Homo sapiens: one gene and its partners. The protein of the gene in region 3 purifies or fractionates together with the protein of the main gene of each other region. This does not show direct contact. Each region holds a gene or a part of one and is shown on either strand. Other genes may lie near its edges. The genes, in order: MBTD1, ING3 and EPC2.

Evidence for each region.
Region 1: the proteins of EPC2 (region 3) and MBTD1 purify together in Homo sapiens (affinity purification with mass spectrometry; 3 studies listed by BioGRID and IntAct, with this or other methods). This does not show direct contact.
Region 2: the proteins of EPC2 (region 3) and ING3 purify together in Homo sapiens (affinity purification with mass spectrometry; 3 studies listed by BioGRID and IntAct, with this or other methods). This does not show direct contact.

The regions. Positions count from the first base shown.
Region 1 is NC_000017.11:51,176,876-51,180,162, forward strand, and holds the end of MBTD1 (MBT domain-containing protein 1), read right to left. Parts: 3' UTR 550-3,287; downstream 1-549. UniProt on the Homo sapiens protein: Chromatin reader component of the NuA4 histone acetyltransferase complex, a multiprotein complex involved in transcriptional activation of select genes principally by acetylation of nucleosomal histones H4 and H2A.
Region 2 is NC_000007.14:120,974,735-120,977,836, forward strand, and holds the end of ING3 (inhibitor of growth protein 3), read left to right. Parts: coding exon 1-110; 3' UTR 111-2,482; downstream 2,483-3,102. UniProt on the Homo sapiens protein: Component of the NuA4 histone acetyltransferase (HAT) complex which is involved in transcriptional activation of select genes principally by acetylation of nucleosomal histones H4 and H2A.
Region 3 is NC_000002.12:148,780,670-148,784,431, forward strand, and holds part of EPC2 (enhancer of polycomb homolog 2), read left to right. Parts: intron 1-974; coding exon 975-1,111; intron 1,112-2,927; coding exon 2,928-3,087; intron 3,088-3,762. UniProt on the Homo sapiens protein: May play a role in transcription or DNA repair.

The DNA of each region.
Region 1 (3,287 bases), on a different chromosome or scaffold from region 3:
CCGTCTCGACTAAAAATACAAAAAATTAGCCGGTCGTGGTGGCAGGCGCCTGTAGTCCCAGCTACTCAGGAGGCTGAGGCAGGAGAATGGTGTGAACATGGGAGGTGGAGGTTGCAGTGAGCCGATATAGCGCCACTGCACTCCAGCCTGGGTGACAGAGCAAGACTCCATCTCAAAAAAAAAAAAAAAAAAAAAAGTCTCCTACTAAGCATGCCAACCCCAAAACACGATGTTCTAGCTAAGATGATTTAATTTCCCCATAAAGGTCCCTATTCACCTTGGCTCCTGCTGTGGTTTTTGCCCTTTCCCTCCCTGCCCATGAAATCCCACCTCCAATGCAACCTCATCCATATGTCTAACCATACTACTCTTGGCTCCCTTGGCAGCTAGTGGAAAATTCTTCCTTACAGCACTCATGTGCCTGCTACCCCTTGTAAGAGGAAGGGGCTGATCCAACTTTCATAGGGGTCTCTGACTGCTTATAGAGGGCACGCAATAGAAAAGCAACCCCCCAAACCAAAGCATATTAAAGAACTGCTCAAATCCAGCTTAACTTTAACATTTTATTTTGTGTAAAAAAGGGCAAATTTAGTGAATTATTTTCATCTTGTACACAAAGTTATAATTTTAATGCTTTTCACATCCATGCTGAAAATTTGCAATTTGGTAAAAATGAAAGGAACATAAATTTTTCCAAAGGAATTTTTCACGCCATTATATATACACTTCATGAGAAAGTTTCAAACACTTTCTCAATGATCACGAGTTACCAAGAAAATAAAAGATTAAATTTGTACAGATATTGATCTATATATCAAATACATACAGAAATGATGTAAAAACCTTATGCAGTTTACTTTGACCTCTGTCCTCAAAAGATTTGCCCAGGGACAGATGCTTTTCTTTTGTATAAATGACTGTGGCTTTATTTAAAATATGAAAATCAAAGGAAGAAACCCAGTTTAATCACAGTATTTTTAAAATCCCTTCCCAATATTAAAGGATCATTACCAATATATAGCACCATAATACAAATATTGATGGGAGAGGGTATTCACATCACGCAAAATTAATAATAATAATAAAAACAAACAAACACTGAAAACCCGTGTTAGTATCGTAGAATAAGAAGTTGATAACAGCTTTAGCTTTCCTCATACACGGCAAGGAAAAGGTTAAAGAGTTTAAACTACCAAAAGTCCCCAAATAAATCCTAACAGGAAAAACAAAACAAAACAAAAACAAACCCAAGGTCAGCAGTACATTTTGAACCGTAAAAGAGAATGGGGCGATTGAGTTGTACAACTGGAGTTATGGCTAAGACATAAATCTCCTCTGCATTAATTATTTTTCGGTTCGTCGGCAGTAGGAGTTAGTGTGTGAACAATGAAAGAGGGCTTTAGGTTGTGTTCAGACTGTAGAAAAGTCCTTACCAACCTTCAACTGTTGGTCACGGGATCAAGACAAGAAACACTTCATGAATTAGGAAATTCTAAAACACTCAGAGCCTGGGTTTGCTATAGAATTGGAAGCTTATGAAACCTGGGTATAAATGAGCATTTCATAGATTACCAGGACTGACTAGCTCCAAATCCTCTCTCTCCTGGTTTAGTCAGTTCCCCATGGAGCTCCTAAATCCAAGGTACTGGCAGAGTACACTACACAACAGGCTTCTTGTGCCTGTGCTGTGGAATTAGTCCTGGGTTTAATTCAGTGAGCCTGAGAATAAAGACTGCTCTAACCCTTGCTTTGGAATACTTCTAGGCTTTAAGTTTACAAGAAGATTTTTCAAAGTTAAAGATATGGGAAGTGTGAGGATGTCACATTTACAGTAGGTCCCTCTCAGCAATGTTAAGATAAATATCCAGTAATTTAACAGCTGAATTCACATATATTTGACACATGAGAATCAACTTGCGTTGATGTGATCTGCATTTATGCCCCTAAAGAGTCAGTATTAAGAAATGGTGACATGCGATTCCATACATTCTTACACTATAAAGTAACAAATTTTACTTCCAGTAGCTATTATAAAACCTTATGTTATTAACCCCTCTTGCATAGAATGAGGTAAACCTGTGCGTATTACCAATGCTATTATTCCCAAAAGTAGAGCAATATTTTAGAAAATAAATTGCTGGTTTTTTTTAACGTTCTATGCATTTTAAAATTCAAACAAAAGTCTTACCTAAAATGGTCTCCTGGGGCTTTCCATTAACATTTTTTAAAGCATTCCATAGGCTGAAGGACTGTAGAGGTTAATCATTTTGATTAATTTCTAATTAGCCCTACCTATATTCCAGAGGAGATGGTCAATATTACCACTCTGAAGAGGCCAGGCTAAGACCCAGAAGCACTTCTAGAACAGATGCAATTAATTCCTGAGAGTTTAGTTTATGAACCTCACTGGTAAACGCTAGAGCGCTCTCATTCAGTCACAACTCAGTAGAAAGTTAGAAAATGCAGAGAGCAAACCTTTCACCAGTTTACCCTTGTATCCTTTTTTTTTTTTTAAAAGGAAGTCATATGAATTTTAAAACAGGGAATGTTCAAAATGGTCCAAATCGGTTATTATTAAAATAAATCCTGAATACAATTAAAGACAATTTTATATATATATATATATATATATATATATATATATATATATATATATATATATGGAATTTTAAGAAAATTAAATTCTCTTTCAAATTAGTTTTCTACCAAATCCAGGATAGATAAAAGCAGAGCTGGAATGATTTTGAAATCTAAACTTATTTTGGCTTTGAATAACTTTCAATTCGATTCTCCTAATACAGAACATCTGTTTTTGGTTGTGGTTATACGAAGCTGTTATTTCACAGATAGAGGGAAATGGCAGAGAACTGATCAGAATCCCTTTCGTGGGGTATTTTTTTTAGAAAGGAAAATAAACTAAGGACAACATTACATTTTCCCCAACCCCTCAATGTGTAGACTGAGATCCTGAATATCTTGTCAACCATTCCAGTTTAACACTTTAGTGTTAGGATAATTCTAATCATTTTTTTAATTAAAAGAGAACATATAAAAGTATCCAGAGTTCTTCCAGTTTCATACAGAACTCCAAATAAATTTTCACAGAATGAAAAATATTTCTGTACAAACATTTAAAATGGGCTGCAATAAAATGCCAACAAGAGAAATAATGACCCTTCCATGACCTTTGTGGTGATGACCCCTCCATGAGGAGTTCAGTTGCATATTTCTGCAGCAAAAGAAGCTGGAGATGTGACTGGCCTAACTTCTAAAAATCCCAAAATCTC
Region 2 (3,102 bases), on a different chromosome or scaffold from region 3:
TAGAATGGTTCCATTATGGCTGCGTTGGATTGACAGAGGCACCAAAAGGCAAATGGTACTGTCCACAGTGCACTGCTGCAATGAAGAGAAGAGGCAGCAGACACAAATAAAGGTGGTCCTTTTGTTTGATGAAGAAATAAACTTCAGCTGAAGATTTTATATAGGACTTTAAAAAGAAGAGAAGAGAAAGAAGAAACAATGCATTTCCAGGCAACCACTTAAAGGATTTACATAGACAATCCTATAAGATCTTGAACTTGAATTTTATGGGTTGTATTTTAATAATGTAAGTAAATTATTTATGCACTCCTGGTGTGCTATGAATATTATTCCAGTTAGCCTTGGATTATTTCAGTGGCCAACATATGCAGACATTTGTACTCCTCAACCATTTTCTCAAAGTAATGGGCATTCTATGATTTAGACTTCAAGGAATTCCAATGATGAAGATTTTAAGGAAAGTATTTTATATTCAACAGGTATATTCTGCTGCATGTACTGTACTCCAGAGCTGTTATGTAACACTGTATATAAATGGTTGCAAAAAAAAAAAAAAGTCAGTGCTTCTAAAAAGAATTTAAGATAATGGTTTTTAAAATGCCTTTATAATAAGCTTTGTTTCTTTGTGAAACTAATTCAGCAGGCTGAAGGAAATGGTTCATGTGATAATGTGGGCTGGTATCCTCTAGAGTACCTGGGTACATAAACAGAAACTCCTGTAGGTAAAAAGTAATTTGTGCCATTAGTCTTTCTATGTTTCTGCATCCAGATAGAGTGCAGTTCATGAGGGAGGGGGCGGGGGACTGAAGGGGAAAGGGCGTTAAAGTGATACATTTTTATACCAAATGTGTTTATTTTTTTGTGCAAGTAATCCTTAAAATTGCAATTGTATTAGGTGTTAAAATAAAGTTTTTAAAAAATTACTTGTATTTATACTTTACATACTTAATAATGAAAATTTCTGAATTCCAATTAACTTTCAACTTTCATAATCTAAAAAGAATCAGAGACCCAGGACACAGAATACTGTGTAATCTGTGATGTCTTTAATGATGTTTAGAGTTTGTGATATAAGAATACAGGAAAGACATTTTTAATGTAAATTTGAAATGCCAATGTATTTTTTTAAGAACATCATCTGGCTTTTCCTTCAGTCTAAAAGACATGAAAGAAGTGTAAGTATAGCAGTTAAAACGAAAATAATGGTTATGGGTGTTTTGACTGGAGGCAATGTAGCCAAATAGAGTAAAGAGACCCCCCTGGTCGGGAGCTCCAAATTGAGCTATTTTTGATTCTACCACTTACTGATATGACAGTTAATTCAAATTTTGTATCACTCTGGGCCTTACTACACCAGGGTGATGCTGACTGCAGAATAGATCTTATTCTAAGGTGCTATTTAAATTATAAATTTGCATAGTGGAGGTTTTATTTAAAGTATAATATTGAGTCTGGTCGATAGAAAAATCCTTAACTTTTAAGATACTTAATATATCATATATATTTTATATTGAAACTTACTGGGTCCATCAGATTTCTGCTTTAATTAAACCACTTATGAGCTTCTTAGAACTTATTCAGATAACAGTGTAAAATCTATGCAGTGCTACCCAAAGGGTGTGAGGTAGATAGGGGATTTCAAAGATCTCTTCCACCTTTGAGATCCCATGATTCTGAGCTGCCACAGTCTGATTATACAACTCTACCAGCTCCCTAAACAAGTTAGGTTCATTTGTGAGTACTCATCATTTCATAATATCATGATTATCACGATTTCATGATACTCAATATTTTGAGATTTTATAACCCTTTAAGAAGTGATAAATAATGTAGTATTCAATTCGTTTATCAAAGTATATTGCCTGGAAATGCTCACATGTATCATTTACATCCTCTATATATTATGACTATTCCAAACTCATTCATTTTATAGAAATGGTCAAAGGAAAAAGCCTTATGTACAGCCTTATTTGAAGAGAAAGTTCTTTGTCTGAGTCAGGAACATCCTGTTATCCAGCTGCTACATCCCCTTTCAGTGTGAATTCCACTCCTTACCAAATCACTTAGAAAACACTTTGACAAGTTTTAAACTCAAACACTGAATATTTTATGAAGCATGTGTAAAGAAAGAAACCAAAATTTGGTGCAGGTATTTAGTAATGGGTAGAACCTGTTAATATCTGAGTCATATATAATGGGGCCAAACATGGAACTACCTCATCAACCCCCCAAAAATGTGGCCAACTATTAATATTCTTTGTGACATTTACACCAAGGGGCATAGTAAGTATTTTTGGTATTATAAAATACACATTCAAAATCTCTGTTGTACAAAACTCATGTAACAGTTGGGACAAAATATCCAAATGTGGGTTCACAGTTCACAGGTGGTGAAAATTGAGGCCTTACTGCTATGGAGTGTATATCAAAATGTTCATGGTGACACATTTGAAGCAATAAATGGCTTAATTAAATGCCAAAATGAGGCTGAGTGTTTGATAAGCATACAATCATTCTTTTCAAGGGCAGTTTATATTTTTTTGTTCTCTTCTCCTTTAAAGCAAATTCCACGTTTTAGGTTTTTAACCATCTTAGGTTTGTGCAATATTAGTGCCCTTTGTCTTTAGACTTTAGGAATGGTCTTATTGACCTAATTAATTATTTTAATCTTATGCAAATAAATGTCTAACAAACTTGGGTTATAAAGGGGTATAAGATACTCCTTAATGTGTAGACATTGCAATGGTTTCCCCTCAGCTCTCACAGATAAAAATACATTTATTTTTTAGCAGATGGGTTTTAAGAGAAAAAAAGACCCTTAAAAATATTCTTTAACTTTACAAATACTAAGCACCTAGATTCTGAGAATATACAGATGAAGGTATTATATGTGTGTGTGGGGGGAGTTGGTGGGGGCAGACATGTTAAATGTGTTATCTTGATGAATGCTGTAATGGATACACAAAGCACTGGGAGAACACTGGGAGGCAGGGAAATTGATTACTGAAATAGTCAAGAAGACTTAACAAAAGAGCTATCATTTGAACTGAGTCCTAAAGACAGATGTAGTAGAGATGGCCTTCAAGGCAGAAGAGACTCTTC
Region 3 (3,762 bases):
CTGCATTATAGTAGATAGTAAATATTTGTTGATTGAAATCATTGGGAGAAAGGATAGCAAGCAATAAAGAAAACAGAGCAAAATTACTCTAAAGTACATGTATTATCATGTCATTTAATTTTTCTTGACTCTAATATTATAATGACTTCCATGGAAATGTCTTTGTGTTCTCTAAATCAACTTATCAGTGATCTACTTAAATATCAACGAATGAAATTTTGTTTACATTTCTTTGAGAAAAGTGGTTTCTGTAACTTAGCTGATTTTTTCAACAAAAGTTGTAGATGTCTTGTTTTCATTTGAAACACACTTTTAACACAGTTGGTCGCAGTAGAATTTACTACATCTGAGGATACATAGTATCTTCAGTTTTCTGAATACTTGTCTGATTTCTAGCCCATATTTTTATAGATGGATTTACTTTAGGCGTTGAATCTATTGGCTTAAACTATGGTTTGTGGTTATGTTAGATGAATGTTGTTCTCTACTTTGATTTGTAATCAGAGAATAAAGTATTTTCACTTCAGTGTTTTATGAAACCAGCAGTAAAAATCATTTATAGTCTTGCAGATGGTCCTGCTTTCTTATTAAGGCTATAACTTAGTCATCATTATTATTAACATGAATAAATCAAAGTTTTTTTCATTACATGCTCTCCATAATATAGAGAATTAAGAGTGGTCTCAAAGATACTAAGTCTGAATAAATGGTAAAATACTCATGTTAGAACTGTATTATTCAACAAAAACTACATTTAGGCACTTTTCTTAGCATGTGATGGAGATTATAAATACAAGCATACACCACACTTGCTGGAAGATTTGCCATTTTCATTAGATTATTTTCTGATATTCCATATTGTAATTTGTAATTGCTTTCATCTTAATTGTGGAATAAGTTTATATCATATTCTGCTTGTGTTATTAAAAATCTTTTAAAACGTACTCATTTCCAAAATTCATGTTCTTTACCAGTAACAGGGGGTATCACAGAAGAGCAGTTTCAGACACATCAGCAGCAGTTAGTTCAGATGCAAAGGCAGCAACTTGCCCAGCTTCAGCAGAAACAGCAATCTCAGCATTCCTCGCAACAGACACATCCAAAAGCACAGGTAAACTGCTCTTTTCGTCATAGTTACGTTTGTTTCTTTCATCATTATGTAGTTTTATTCCATTTTAGTCAAGTCACAGAAGATAATCTTGGTTTTGCCACTCTTGATTTGGGGTCTGTAACCTGAATTTCTTTTCAGTTAATGTACGTAATTTTAAGTGACTAGCTTATAAACTAATCTCTTAATATTTTGAGAAGAGTGCTGGAGCCAAATATGGTATTTTAAATTTTTTGAAGGGTTGTTGAGAATTTATAGAAGTAATTATATATGTAGTTGTAAGAATCATTCTCCACCTCCACTCCCCCAAAGATTTTTTTGAAAGATAAAACTTTCCTAACCACTTCCTAAACTATGTGTTTAAGTGCATGTGGATGTGCTCCATGAGCTGGGCAGTAATTCAGTTGAATTGTGCAATACATCAACAGCATAACCCCTTGCCATTGTGAATCACATTTCCCTGTTGAAGAAAATTGCAACCAGGCACGGTGGCTCATGCCTGTAATCCCAGCACTTTGGGCGGCCGAGGCGGGCAGATCACTTGGGGTCAGGAGTTCAAGATCAGCCTGGTCAACGTGGCAAAACCCTGTCTCTACTAAAAATACAAAAACTAACTGGGCATGGTGGTGAATACCTGTAAGCCCAGCTACTTGGGAGGCTGAGGCATGAGAATCGCTTGAACCCTGAAGGTGGAGGTTTCAGTGAGCTAAGATCGCACCACTGCACTCCAGCCTGGGTGATAGAGTCAGACTATGTCTCCAAAAAAAACAAAAAAAATTAATTAAAATTTTTTAAAATGAAGAAGAAAATTGCCACTAGGGGAAGTTGTTTGTAGACACCACTAAATAAAGATGCTAGAGATAAGAATAAAAATACTTCATAAAACCATAATTGCCAGAAGGAACCAGCCCTGCCAACACCTTGATTTTAACCCCATAAGCTTCATTGTGGACTTCTGGCCTGCAGAACTATATGATAATAAATTTTTAAGCCACTAAAAGCAAAACTAAGAAATCTATTTCAAATTTGAACCACCTGAAAAACATAAACCTTGCGTTTTAGGTCTTAAGTTTTATTGCTCTATAATTCTAAAACCACTTCTAAAGTAATAACTGAGGTTTACTCAATTTTGGTTATATTTTGTGAGCTCTCAGGCTAGAATCTGCCCATTGTAGTTCAGCCCATTCTCAAAGGGTCAGTACACTGACTTTAAAGATCCTGACTCCAGTAACATGAAAATCTCAGTGACCCTGGAATGCAACACTCCTGTGACATCCAGGTGGATCTGGGACTTGCTCAAGGACTAGGGCTGTAGGACTTAGTAACTAGGACTTAGTAACCAGTTTTATACAGAATCAAGGAGGAATGGCCATTTAACTTTACTTTGTTTGCTTTTTCTGAGTCTCCTGGTTAACCAACCAAAAGTATTTTCATCCTATTTCAGGGTTAGGCCAAGATAGGTTTTCACATTGTGACAAAAATGTCTATTAATCATCTCTATGATTTCATTTTATCCAAGTATGTAGTTTTTCAAGCATTTTTAAAACCATTCATTAATATTTTTTGGAAAAATTAATAGAACATTAAAGCCTTGGGTTATTTAATCTCTAGTTCTTTCTCAGAAATAACTTCTCAGTTTTTGTTCGTTTCCCTGCTTCATATGCCAAAAATCATCTATGGAATCGTAGATCGCTTAATCTAAACACTTGTAATTGTTCAAGGTTAGAAAGGCAACAGCCTCTTGGGTTTGCCCCATCCCTTAATATGTTCATAAAATCACATCTAAAAATTAGAGTGTTTAACTTTGTTCATTTTATAGGGCTCAAGCACCTCTGACTGTATGTCTAAAACACTTGACTCAGCCAGCGCCCACTTTGCTGCATCTGCAGTGGTCAGTGCACCTGTTCCAAGTCGCAGTGAGGTAGCCAAGGAACAGAACACTGGCCACAACAACATAAACGGTGTTGTCCAGCCTTCAGGTACAGCTGGGGTTTCACATGGTACCTACTTTCTTGAAGTTGTAACTCAGTGATTGGGAGTTTGTTTTTTGTTTTTTTATCCAAGGGGAAAATGTGTATAAGTCAATCAGGACTCTTTAGGATTTCTTTGGAAAGATAGTGGGAAATAGGTAGATGTTTTCTAGAATTCATGTAGAATCTACTCCTTGTTTTCTCCCTCATCCATTGAATACATACCTGTGTAACATTCTACCCTTCCTGGTTTCATTCACATACTGTCAGTTGCCTCACATCTTAGGAAATCTGTTGAGCTAACCATCCCCATTGAATCATGCATGCATTGATAAAAAAGTGAAAGATAATCCAGGACAGTAATAAATTGGAAATCAGATTTGCCTTCCCACTCTTACATACTGCTCATAGGCATACTAACTCTGGCTCCCGCTCTTTAGATAGAGTATTGCTGTGAAACCCTGTGTGCTTCTTAGTACCCTGAGTCCGCAAAGACTTGTTATTCCTATCATCCTTCAACTACCTCTCAGACCCTAGGATTTTCCAGTTGCTTTTATATATACCCATGAACCTGATTGTCCATTTTTACTAATATTCATGCATGTGTACATACTTAGGGAAACCCAACTGTCATTTCCATCTGTCCTGTTATACTTAACTCCACAGTTGCCAGATACAGGCAGC